Linked DNA regions of Homo sapiens. The protein of the gene in region 3 purifies or fractionates together with the protein of the main gene of each other region. This does not show direct contact. Each region holds a gene or a part of one and is shown on either strand. Other genes may lie near its edges.

Region 1 (3,655 bases), on a different chromosome or scaffold from region 3:
GTTGAGGCAGGTGGATCACCTGAGATCAGGGGTTTGAGACCAGCCTGGCCAACAGCCTGGTCATCTCTACTAAAAATACAAAAAATTAGCCGGGCATGGTGGCATGCGCCTGTAATCCCAGCTACTTGGGAGGCTGAGGCAGGAGAATGCTTGAACCTGGGAGGCGGAGGTTGCAGTGAGCCGAGATCACACCACTGCACTCCAGCCTGGGCGACAGAGCGAGACTCCATCTCAAAAATATATATATATATATATATATATATAAATTTTTAAAGTCATAAAACTTTAAAATAATCTAATATAGCAGCAAAATAAATAAATGGAGCAAAAATTGTTAGGAACACAAGATTAGCTCTATTAGAAGACAACAAAATGGGAAAATCTGTCTCTTTCAGAAAACAACAGAATAAGAAGCCCCAAACTAAAGCTACAGAATTGCACGGCACCATTAAATAAACTTACTTAAATTCTTAAAAATAAATAAAATTTAATATTTTAATTTAAAACAGAGATCCCACATTCTTTAAAATGTCTATGAAGCTTTGACAAAACCAATCATTTATTAGGCCACAAAGAAAATTCCAACTTCCAAAAAGTCCTTCTTCCTGGATGACTACCATAAGGCCAAAACTTAGCAATCAAAACGTAAAACAACCACACACATACCCCCACCTCTAACCACTGAGAAGCTGAGCACCAATAACTAGATTTGGAGGTTAAAGTAAAAACTGAGAGATTAGGAAGCTATCAAACATTATTTGAAAAATAAAAACAGTACTGGTTCTTAGAACAAATAAAATTGTAAAACCTCTAGGAAGTCTGATCAAAGAGAAAATAAACATACGACATTAGGAATGAGGAAGTGGATATAATCACAAGTGATAAAGAGATTTTTAAAAATAAGAGATGATTGCTCTTTGCCAATTAAATTTGAAAATCTAGGTGAAATGAATGATTTCTGAGGAGAATACAAATTCCTAAATTTGATTCAAGAAGTTGTAGAAAACCTTTCTATACCAATAACCATAGAAAGAATTAAATGGGCAATCCATGCTTTATCCCCAAAAGATAAAGACCCCAATAGTTTCATTAACAAGGTCTAATAAAAATTATAAGGGCATTCTCAATTCATGTTATTTAAAGTATTCCAGGGCATTAAAAACATAGCAATACATTTTTTTCCAATATATTTTCCAAGAAAACAAATCCCTGATACCAAAACAAAATTAAGATAACATAAGAGGCTGGGTGCAGTGGCTCACACCTGTAATCCAAGCACTTTGGGAGGCCGAGGCAGGTGAATCACTTGAAAACAGGAGTTCGAGACTAGCCTGGCCAAAATGGTGAAACCCCGTCTCTACTAAAAACACAAAAATCAGCCTGGTGTGGTGGCGGGAGTAGTCCCAGCTACTCAGGAAGCTGAGGTAGGAGAATCACTTGAACCCAGGAGGCAGAGGCTGCAGTGAGCCGAGATCCTGCCACTGCACTCCAGCCTGGGCGACAGAGCGGGACTGTCTCCAAAAACTAAAAAATAAAAAAAAAAGCCATGAGAAGAGAATTACAAAGCAATATAAATTATAAACATAGATATAAAATTCCTAAACCAAATACTAGCTTATCAACTTTAAAATGTATTAGAATAATATTATCAACCATGATCATTAGGTTTTTACTTTGGGAATTTTTTTTTTTTTTTTTTTTGAGACGGAGTCTTGTTCTGTCACCCAGGCTGGAGTGCAGTGGTGCAATCTCCGCTCACTGCAACCTCCGACTCCTGAGTTCAAGTGATTCTCCTGCCCCAGCTTCCCGAGTAGCTGGGATTACAGGAATGTGCCAACCACACCCGGCTAATTTTTGTATTTTTAGTAGAGATGGGGTTTCCCCACATTGGTCAGGCTGGTCTCGAACTCCTGACCTCATGATCTGCCTGCCTCAGCCTCCCAAAAAAGTGCTGGGATTATAGGTGTGAACCACTGTGCCTGGCCTACTTTGGGAATTAACCATTGCTTTTACATAAGAAAATCTTGGCCAGGAGCAGTGGCTCATCCCTGTAATCCTAGCACTTTGGGAGGCTGAGGTAGGAGGATTGCTTGAGGCCAAGGGTTTGAGACCAGCATGGGCAACAGAGTGAGACCTGTGTCTACAAAAAAAAAAAATTTTAATAAAAAATAAATTAAAAAAAAGAATTCACTGGAAGAACATCCAAGAACAAAAAAAAAAACGAAAAATCTCTTAAGATTCACGAAAGATGAAACTATGTGAACATCTGAATAGTAAAAGTAAATTAGAATATAGTTCAGACACCAAAAGCAAATACAAATTGTACTTAGTGTTAAAACACTATAAATATTCCATTTTTAATTTTTATCTATTTATTTATTTATTTAGAGACAGGGTCTTGCTCTGTCACCCAGGCTGTAGTGGCATGATCATGGTTCACCACAGCTTCGACCTCCCAGGCTCAAGCAAACTCCCATCTCAGCCTCCCAAGTAGCTGGGACTACAGGCGTGTGGCACCATGCCCAGCTAATTTTTAAATTTTTTTTGTAGAGACAGGGTCTCACTGTGTTGCCCAGGCTGTCTTGAACTCCTAGGCTCAAGTGATCCTCCTGCCTCAGCCCCGCAAAGCACTGGGATTACAGGAATGAGCCAAAGTGCTCAGCCTTATTTTTTATTAAAAAACGAAAAAGAGATAAGAAAAAAAAGTTCCCTTTAAAGATCAGAATAAGACAGGGATACATGTGAATACTGCTGTTGTTGCCTGGATATCCTAAACAATTTTAAATCACATAAAAAAAACTATACGCATAATTAGGAAGAAACTCTACTGGTTTGCAGATCATCTAACTGTGTGTATAGGAAATCCAAGAGAATCAAATGAAACACAACTAGAGGCCAGGTGCAGTGGCTCACGCCTGTAATCCCAGTACTTTGGGAGGCTGAGGCAGGTGGATCATTTGAGGTCAGGAATTCGAGACCAACCTGGCCAACATGGCAAAACCCTGTCTCTACTAAAACTACAAAAATTAGCCAGGTATGGTGGCAGGCGCCTGTAATACCAGCTACTCGGGAGGCTGAGGCACAAGAATTGCTTGAACCCGGGAGGCGGAGGTTGCAGTAAGCTGAGATTGTGCCACTGCACTCCAGCCTGAGCGACAGAGCAAGACTCCGTCTCGAAAGAAAGAAAGAAAAACAACTAGAACCAATAAGAAAAAAGATTACTTTGATGAATACATTAAAAAGCATATCTAGAGAAATTAAATTTCTAGACCTAGAGAAAACAATAAAATCATATTTAAGGACACAAAAGGTTTGAATGAAAATCAGTAGATGCACCACATTCTAAAATTTCCATTCTCTCCAAATTTATAAATTCAATGTAATCCAAATGTAAAAATGAGACATTTTTCCCGTTTTGGACTGGGCAAGCCAGTTTCTTTTTCTTTTCTCTCTTTTTTTCAGACACGGCGTCTTCCTATGTTTCCCAGACTAGAGTTCAGTGGGTATTCGCAGGCATGATCATTATACACTACAGCCCTGAACTCCTGGGCTCAAGTGACGCTCCTGCCTTGGCCTGCTGAGTAGCTGCAATTAACAAGCTAATTTCAAAGTAAACAGGCAAGCTCTTTTTAAGAAGGTAGAATAGTGAAAGTGT
Region 2 (3,655 bases), on a different chromosome or scaffold from region 3:
ATAAAGTTTAACTTCAACAAAAGGATATTGGCTTGAGGGAGGTTGTGTTAATCTATCTTTTGAATTCATTTTGACTGTTGTAAAGATAATTATAGCTTGGCCTAAATTTGCTTCTTACTACCTGTGTGACTTTAGGTAAATCGTTTAACACTGTACTAATAAGATTGAACTGGATTTACAATTGAGGTACAGTTAAACTCTAAATTTCTTGGATTTTACATTTCCTTTATTGATCACATAAAATATTTGATTTTGATCTAGGTAGATTATTAGGTTATTTCAGCATTTGGAATTTGTTTTGTGCTTATCAGTAATAAAAAACAAGTTAAAATACTGTGTTTTTGTGTGTACACGTTTCCAATTTTTAAGTTTCTTGCATTTTTAGTGCTTGTGGATGCTCTCTACGTTTCTTATAGCATCAGTGCTTTTAAGAGTTTAGTGACTAGTCTATATATTTCATTATGAATTAGAAATTACTAGAGGTCAGTAAAGATGTTTCTCTAATTTAGTGGTTCTTCACTCTATTTGGAAGGGGGTTCATTATTTGTAGATGCCGTTTTAGTAGGTGTTTAGGAGGTGCATGAAGATAAGCATATCTTTTGATGAATGTCTGGAATTGTTACTTAAAATTTTTAAATAGAGAAAGCCCATCAGACTAACAGCAGATCTCTCTGCAGAAACCCTGTAAGCCAGAAGAGAGTGGGGACCAATATTCAACATTCTTAAAGGAAAGAATTTTCAACCTAGAATTTCATATCCAGCCAAATTAAGCTTCATAAGCGAAGGAGAAATAAAATCCTTTCCAGACAAGCAAATGCTGAGAGATTTTGTCACCACCAGGCCTGCCTTACAAGACCTCCTGAAGGAAGCCCTGAATATGGAAAGGAAAAAACAGTACAAGCCATTGCAAAAACATACCAATTGTAAAGATGATTGACACTATGAAGAAACAGCATCAACTAATGAGCAAAATAACCAGCTAGCATCATAATGACAGGATCAAATTCACACATAACAATATTAACCTTAAATGTAAATTGGCTAAATGTCCCAATTAAAAGACACAGACTGGCAAATTGGATAGTTAGAACCCACCAGTGTGCTGTATTCAGGAGACCCATCTCACATGCAAAGACACACATGAAACATTTACCAAGCAAATGGAAAGCAAAAAAAACACAAAAAAAACAAAAGGGGTTGCAATCCTAGTCTCTGATAAAACAGACTTTAAACCAACAAAGATCATAAAAGACAAGGGCATTACATAATGGTAAACGGATCAATGCAACAAGAAGAGCTAACTATATATACATGCTCCCAGGATCAGGAACACCCAGTTTCATAAAGTAAGTTCTTAGAGACCTACAAAGAGACTTAGACTCCCACACAATAATAGTGGGAGACTTTAACACCCCATTGTCAATATTAGACAAACGAGACAGAAAATTAGCAAAGATATTCAGGACTTGAACTCAGCTCTGGACCAAGTGGACCTAATAGACATCTACAGAACTCTCCACCCCAAATCAACAGAATACACATTCTTCTCAGCATCATATTGCACTTATTCTAAAATAGTAAAACACTCCTCAGCAAATGCAAAAGAAAATCATAACAGTCTCTCAGACCACAATTCTAATTGCAGTCAAATTAGAATTCAGAATTAAGAAACTCACTCAAAATTGCACAACTACATGGAAACTGAACAGCCTGCTCCAGAATGACTACTGGGTAAATGATAAAATTAAGGCAGAAGTAAATAAGTTATTTGAAACCAATGAGAACAAAGACACAACATATCAGAATCTATGGGACACAGCTAAAGCTGTGTTTAGAGGAAAATCTATAGCATTAAATGCCCACAGGAGAAAACGAGAAAGGTGTAAAATCGACATCCTAACATCACAATTAAAAGAACTGGAGAAGCAACAACAAACAAATTCTAAAGCTAGCAGAAGACAAGAAATAACTAAAATCAGAGCAGAACTGAAGGAGATAGAGACACGAAAAACCCTTAAAAAAATCAATGAATCCAGGAGCTGGTTTTTTGAAAAGATTAGAAAAACCAGACCACTAGCAATACAAACTGTTTTGTATTGGGAAGGCTGTTTCATCTACATTTTGTATTGGGAAGGCTGTTTCATCTACATTTTGTATTGGGAAGGCTGTTTCATCTACATTGAAAATCTGTTGATTAGTCACTTCCATTAATTATCTTAGCTAGATCTTCTGGATAATTTGCTATGGTTTCTGTATCAGCACTTGCTGCTTCTCCTTGCGCTTTTATCTTACGGTGATGAATTCATTCCTTAAACTGCATTAACCAGCCTCTGCTAGCTTCAAACTTTTCTTCTGAACTCTGAGCCTTCATAGAATTGAGGAGAGTTGGGTTCTTGTTCTGGATTGGGTATTGGCTTAAGGGAATGTTGTGACTGATTTGATCTTTTATCCAGATCACTAAAACATTCTCCCTATTAGCAGTAAGGCTGTTTTGCTTTCTTAACATTTGTGTGTTCACTGGCGTAGCACTTCTGATTTCTTTTGATAATATTTCCCTTGCATTCACAGCTTGGCTGTTTGGGTTAAGAAGCCTAGCTTTCTGCCTATCTCGGTTTTAGATGTGCCTTCCTCACTATGCCTACCTATTGTTTCTAGCTTTTGATTTCAAATGAGATACCTGTAACTGTTTTCATTTGCACACTTAGAGGCCATAGTAGGATTAATAGGCTTAATTTCAGTATTGTTGTGTCTCAGGGAACAGGGAGGCCTGAGGAGAGGCCTCCCTGTTCCCTGGGGATGGCTAGTTGGTGGAGCAGTCAGAACACACACATTTATTGATTCCTTTTTTTCTCTAATGTTCATTTTCTAGTTACATATTTTAGCAGTGGAAGGTATCTTAGATAAAGCCTGTTATTTTACTTAAGGTGAAAATGAGTGTTCATGGTCATGGAACACGTTTTTTTTTGATTTAGGATGATAATCCTGCCAGTAGTTTTAAAATCCATTAGAAAACCTTGCTAAGATAAGAGTAATTTTGAGGCTAGGCCAAGGAGAACAGAAAATATGGCTGGGAAAGGGAAACAAGATGAACTTGGACCAGATGTGCTCAGAGTGGAGGTTGCATTAATAGGATATCAGTTTGTCCCTTCCCAACCTTTGGATGTAGGGTAAAAGACATCTCTCAAGAATCTTTCCCTGAATTCCACCCCATCTGCTTCCTGACTAGGAAAGGCCCCTACTAAATGATCCCCTGGGACCTGCACCACTGCTTAGTAACTAACACTTTTCATATTCATAATTATTTGTTTGGTGACTGCATGCTCTTCTAAAATAAAAGCCCATGGCTAAATGGAGACTGTTTGGTTCACCCTTAATTGCCACCGTAACACAGTGCCTGTTGCCTGGTAAATAACTGCTGGTTAATAGGCTGCAGTGCTATCAGTTTAAATAAAAGGATTGGTTGATTACATTTACACAAGTGAAGAAGATAAGGGAAAGCATAAATACTTTTAGATTTGGTAATAAAGACAGTGTCTTCCCTCTTATTGATCATTTTGGTTCTTAGATTTTGATAAGCAAGACTTGTCATCCTATTTTAGCTTTATAATGTAAAGTTCTCTATTTAAATTTTTTTCAGGTCCATAGTACTGGTATG
Region 3 (3,655 bases):
TACCTTGTGAAATCGATTGCTCTGAAAGTCTTAACTTCCATTTCTCAAAGGGAGAAAGCTGAACGCTAAATCTTGCACAGTTGATAGTAAATAAACTTAGAATGACGTACCTGTCCAGTCATACAGATCTATCAGGAATTTTGTAAAGGGTGCCAAAAGAAAAGTCAGTCCCATCCCAGAACGGGCAATAGCTGTAGAAAGAGCCAATCGTTTTTTGAAGTATTTGGTAGTTACCACAGCAGCCACTTGGTATAAGAAAGCAGAACCCAAACCTAAAAGAAAAACGTAATAGTTTAGAATCACTCTTACATTAAGTGGCTTGGTAACAGAAAAGATAATCTCCTGGATCCGAGATAATACAGCTAGGCCTTTTGGACCCAGGAACAGTAGAAGGGAAGAGTCCTGTTCCATCTTCTATCTTCTATGGATGGATGCATATATACATACACACACACACACACATATTTTGAGACAGGGTCTCACTTTGTCACCCAGACTGGAGTGCAGTGGCACAATCTCGGCTCACAACAGCCTCAGCTTCCTGGGCTCAAGCAATCCTCCCACCTCAGCTTCCCAAATAGCTGGGACTACAGGCATGTGCCACCACTGGCCTGGCTAATTTTTGTATTTTTAGTAGAGACAGGGTTTCACCATGTTGCCCAGGCTGGTCTCGAACTGGACTCAAGCGATCCACCCACTTTGGCCTCCCAAAGTGCTAGGATTACAAGTGTGAGCCACCACTCCTGGCCTTCTATGGTCACATAATTACAATGGACTCACCGGGTAGAAGTCCCATAGTCACACAAAGAAAAGGAATACTTGTGGCCCAGCTGCTGATCAGATATCCACCAGTAACAACGAAAGCCCCAAGAATGGAGGTAGTTTTCTCTCCAAGTATGTCACAAATAATAGCAACCAGGGGACCTTAAGAGAAGAAAGAAAGGCAATTCTTAGGTAAATAATGATCTGGCATCCCTTATCCTCTGATGGCGATTTAAATGAATGACAAGGAAAGCAAGAGGACTGTTTACTTTGAAGTATTACGTATTCTTCAAAAAAGATTTTCATATCGGGTTTCTTAATATCACTAGTGCCACACTATTTTAGTTTTTGGAAGGGGAGTTTAAAAGGAAATGTTGATTGTAAGTAAGGTTTGGAGGGGAGGTGATTTGAAATGCATTATAGAACCTCCACAAAAAGATTGCATCTAGTGGTCAATGACTAGAATAAGGTTGAATCACTTATCTGCTCTTCCACCCTGTTACAGCTCCAAATAAAAGGAGAAGAAATTGGTTCTATAATTTGTTTTGAGGCTGGACGCCGTGGCTCTTTAATCCCATACTTTGGGAGGCCAAGGTGGGCAGATCACCTGAGGTCTGGAGTTTGAGACCAGCCTGGCCAACATGGTGAAACCCCATCTCTACTAAAAATACAAAAATTAGCCAGGCATGGTGGCGGGCGCCTGTAATCCCAGCTAGTTGGGAGGCTGAAGCAGGAGAGTTGCTTGAACCTGGGAGGCAGAGGTTGCAGTGAGCCGAGATAGCACCACTGCACTCCAACCTGGGCAACAGAGTGAGACTGTGTCTCAAAAAAAAAAAATAAATAAAATTGTTTTGAATATACTTAGATAACTAGAACTTCATGGCCTAACTTCCAGGTTGAGGGCCTTACTCATTGAACCTATATTAAGGCATTAACAGACTGGAAAGGCAATGCATGAAATACTGAATCATGGCATTTAATAATTCCTCAGCTTTCTTTGTTTGAATGCTGATTCTCCCAACTTTGTTACTAAGTCAAGTGGAAGCTAAATATTGCAATTCCTTACTTTCTCAGCGTTACATATCAGTAAATGAACCTTAATTTTAGAAACTGAATTCCTATTCAGTCTTGAATAGGAATCTTGGAATTGCCCTTTGTGGTTCTTCTCCTTAGACAGCAAGCTTATTGCCAGCTTTATACCTGCACAAAAACGAAGAGATGACATGATGGATCCAATCCAACCAATTTGCTCTGAGGTGCCTTCAAACTCTTCTTGAAAGACCACAAAGAAAATTGCAAAAGTCTTGGTCATCCCCATCACAAACACATTCACCTAAATCAAAGCAGACCAGAGTCCAACTCAGGTGGTAAGTGAGCCATTACAGAGGCAATTACGGCTACTAGAAGTTATGATTCCCTCAGCTTACTACTATTTACCAGTTTGCCTTATTGGTTGAGCCTCATTATACATCTTATATTTTATGGGGGAAGTCATTCCTTTTAAAGTAGCTAAGCATTTTAAATGGAAACATCTCATTTAATCCTCATTTCATGGCTTTGGAATAGGCATGCCAATGTTGTGTACCAAATAATTTATACCAAATAAACCACCCAGTGGGTTCATCTTGCCTGCTGCCTAGATACAGTTGATTTATCAAGACAGGAATTGCAATAGAGAAAGAGTTATTCCCACAGAGCCCATTGTGCAAGAGACTGGAGTTTATTAGACCAATCAGTTTCCCCGAGCTTTTGGGGATCAGAGTTTTTAAGGATAATTTGGTGGGTGGGAGGCCAGTGAGTTGGGAGTGCTGATTGGTTGGGTCAGAGATGAAATTCTATCAAAGCTGCCCTTTTGCGCTGAGTCACTTCTGGGTGGAAGGGTGGAGGGGGACCCACAACCAGATGAGCCAGTTTATTAATCTGGGTGGTGCCAGCTGATCCATCAAATGCAGGGCCTGCAAATTATCTCAAGCACTGATCTTAGGTTTCACAATAGTGATGTTATCCCCCGAGCAATTTGGGGAGGGTCAGTCTTGTGGCCTCCAGCTGTATGACTCCTAAACCATAATTTCTAATCTTATGGCTAATGTGTTAGTCCTACAAAGGCAATCTAGTCCCCAGGCAGGAAGGAAGTGTTTTTTTTTTTTTTTGGAAAGGGCTGTTAAAAGGAGGTTTTTTTTTTTTTTTTTTTTTTTTTTTGGAAACGGCTGTTAGTTTCTCTTTCAAAGTTAAGCTATCAACTAAGTTTCCCCCAAAGTTAGTTCAGCCTACGCATGGGAATGAACAAGGACAGCTTGGAAGTTAGAAGCAGGATGGATGGAGTTGGTTAGGTCAGATCTCTGTCACTGTAATAATTTTCTCAGTTATAACTGCAACAGCAGTTCCAAGATCAGGAAATTGAAGTTTAGAGAGGTAAAAAGTTGCTTAAAATAGGGGTACTGGAACTGAGATTTGAACCCAGATTAGACTGACTCTAGACCTGGCACTCTTTTACTGCCCTCAGTAGCATCTGTTAAAGACAGCTAATTCCAGTTACCTTTGTGGGAGAAAAGTGTTTGTCCAAAGAGGAATAATTATTCCTGTCAGTTCTTAGATTAGTTTTGATTTAACTCTGCTGCTGAGCTGAGTACCTTCCTTCACTAGATATATAAATAGGTTGACCATAAAATGTATCATCCAAATTGAGACACTCAAGAGTGAAAAGGGGTGCTTAATTTTGGATTAACTGGGATTTGTGGCCATCTTAAGGTTGGGCCAGGGGCCCCATCCTTTTCTTTCTGCCCCACCTAATCTTCCTTACCTGTACTCCACTAGAATTGCTGCTTTGGAGATGAGGTTTTCTTTCTGTGGAGTATTAACTTTTATTTCTCAGAATTCTAGTTAGCCGGGGGGC

The links.
Region 1: the proteins of SLC16A4 (region 3) and HIGD1A purify together in Homo sapiens (affinity purification with mass spectrometry; one large-scale study listed by BioGRID and IntAct). This does not show direct contact.
Region 2: the proteins of SLC16A4 (region 3) and DIPK2A purify together in Homo sapiens (affinity purification with mass spectrometry; one large-scale study listed by BioGRID and IntAct). This does not show direct contact.

What each region holds. Positions count from the first base shown.
Region 1 is NC_000003.12:42,787,358-42,791,012, forward strand, and holds part of HIGD1A (HIG1 domain family member 1A, mitochondrial), read right to left. Parts: intron 1-3,655. UniProt on the Homo sapiens protein: Proposed subunit of cytochrome c oxidase (COX, complex IV), which is the terminal component of the mitochondrial respiratory chain that catalyzes the reduction of oxygen to water. May play a role in the assembly of respiratory supercomplexes.
Region 2 is NC_000003.12:143,981,731-143,985,385, forward strand, and holds part of DIPK2A (divergent protein kinase domain 2A isoform a precursor), read left to right. Parts: intron 1-3,655. UniProt on the Homo sapiens protein: May play a role in cardiomyocyte proliferation through paracrine signaling and activation of the PPI3K-AKT-CDK7 signaling cascade.
Region 3 is NC_000001.11:110,380,872-110,384,526, forward strand, and holds part of SLC16A4 (monocarboxylate transporter 5), read right to left. Parts: intron 2,096-3,655; coding exon 1,963-2,095; intron 925-1,962; coding exon 781-924; intron 273-780; coding exon 111-272; intron 1-110. UniProt on the Homo sapiens protein: Proton-linked monocarboxylate transporter.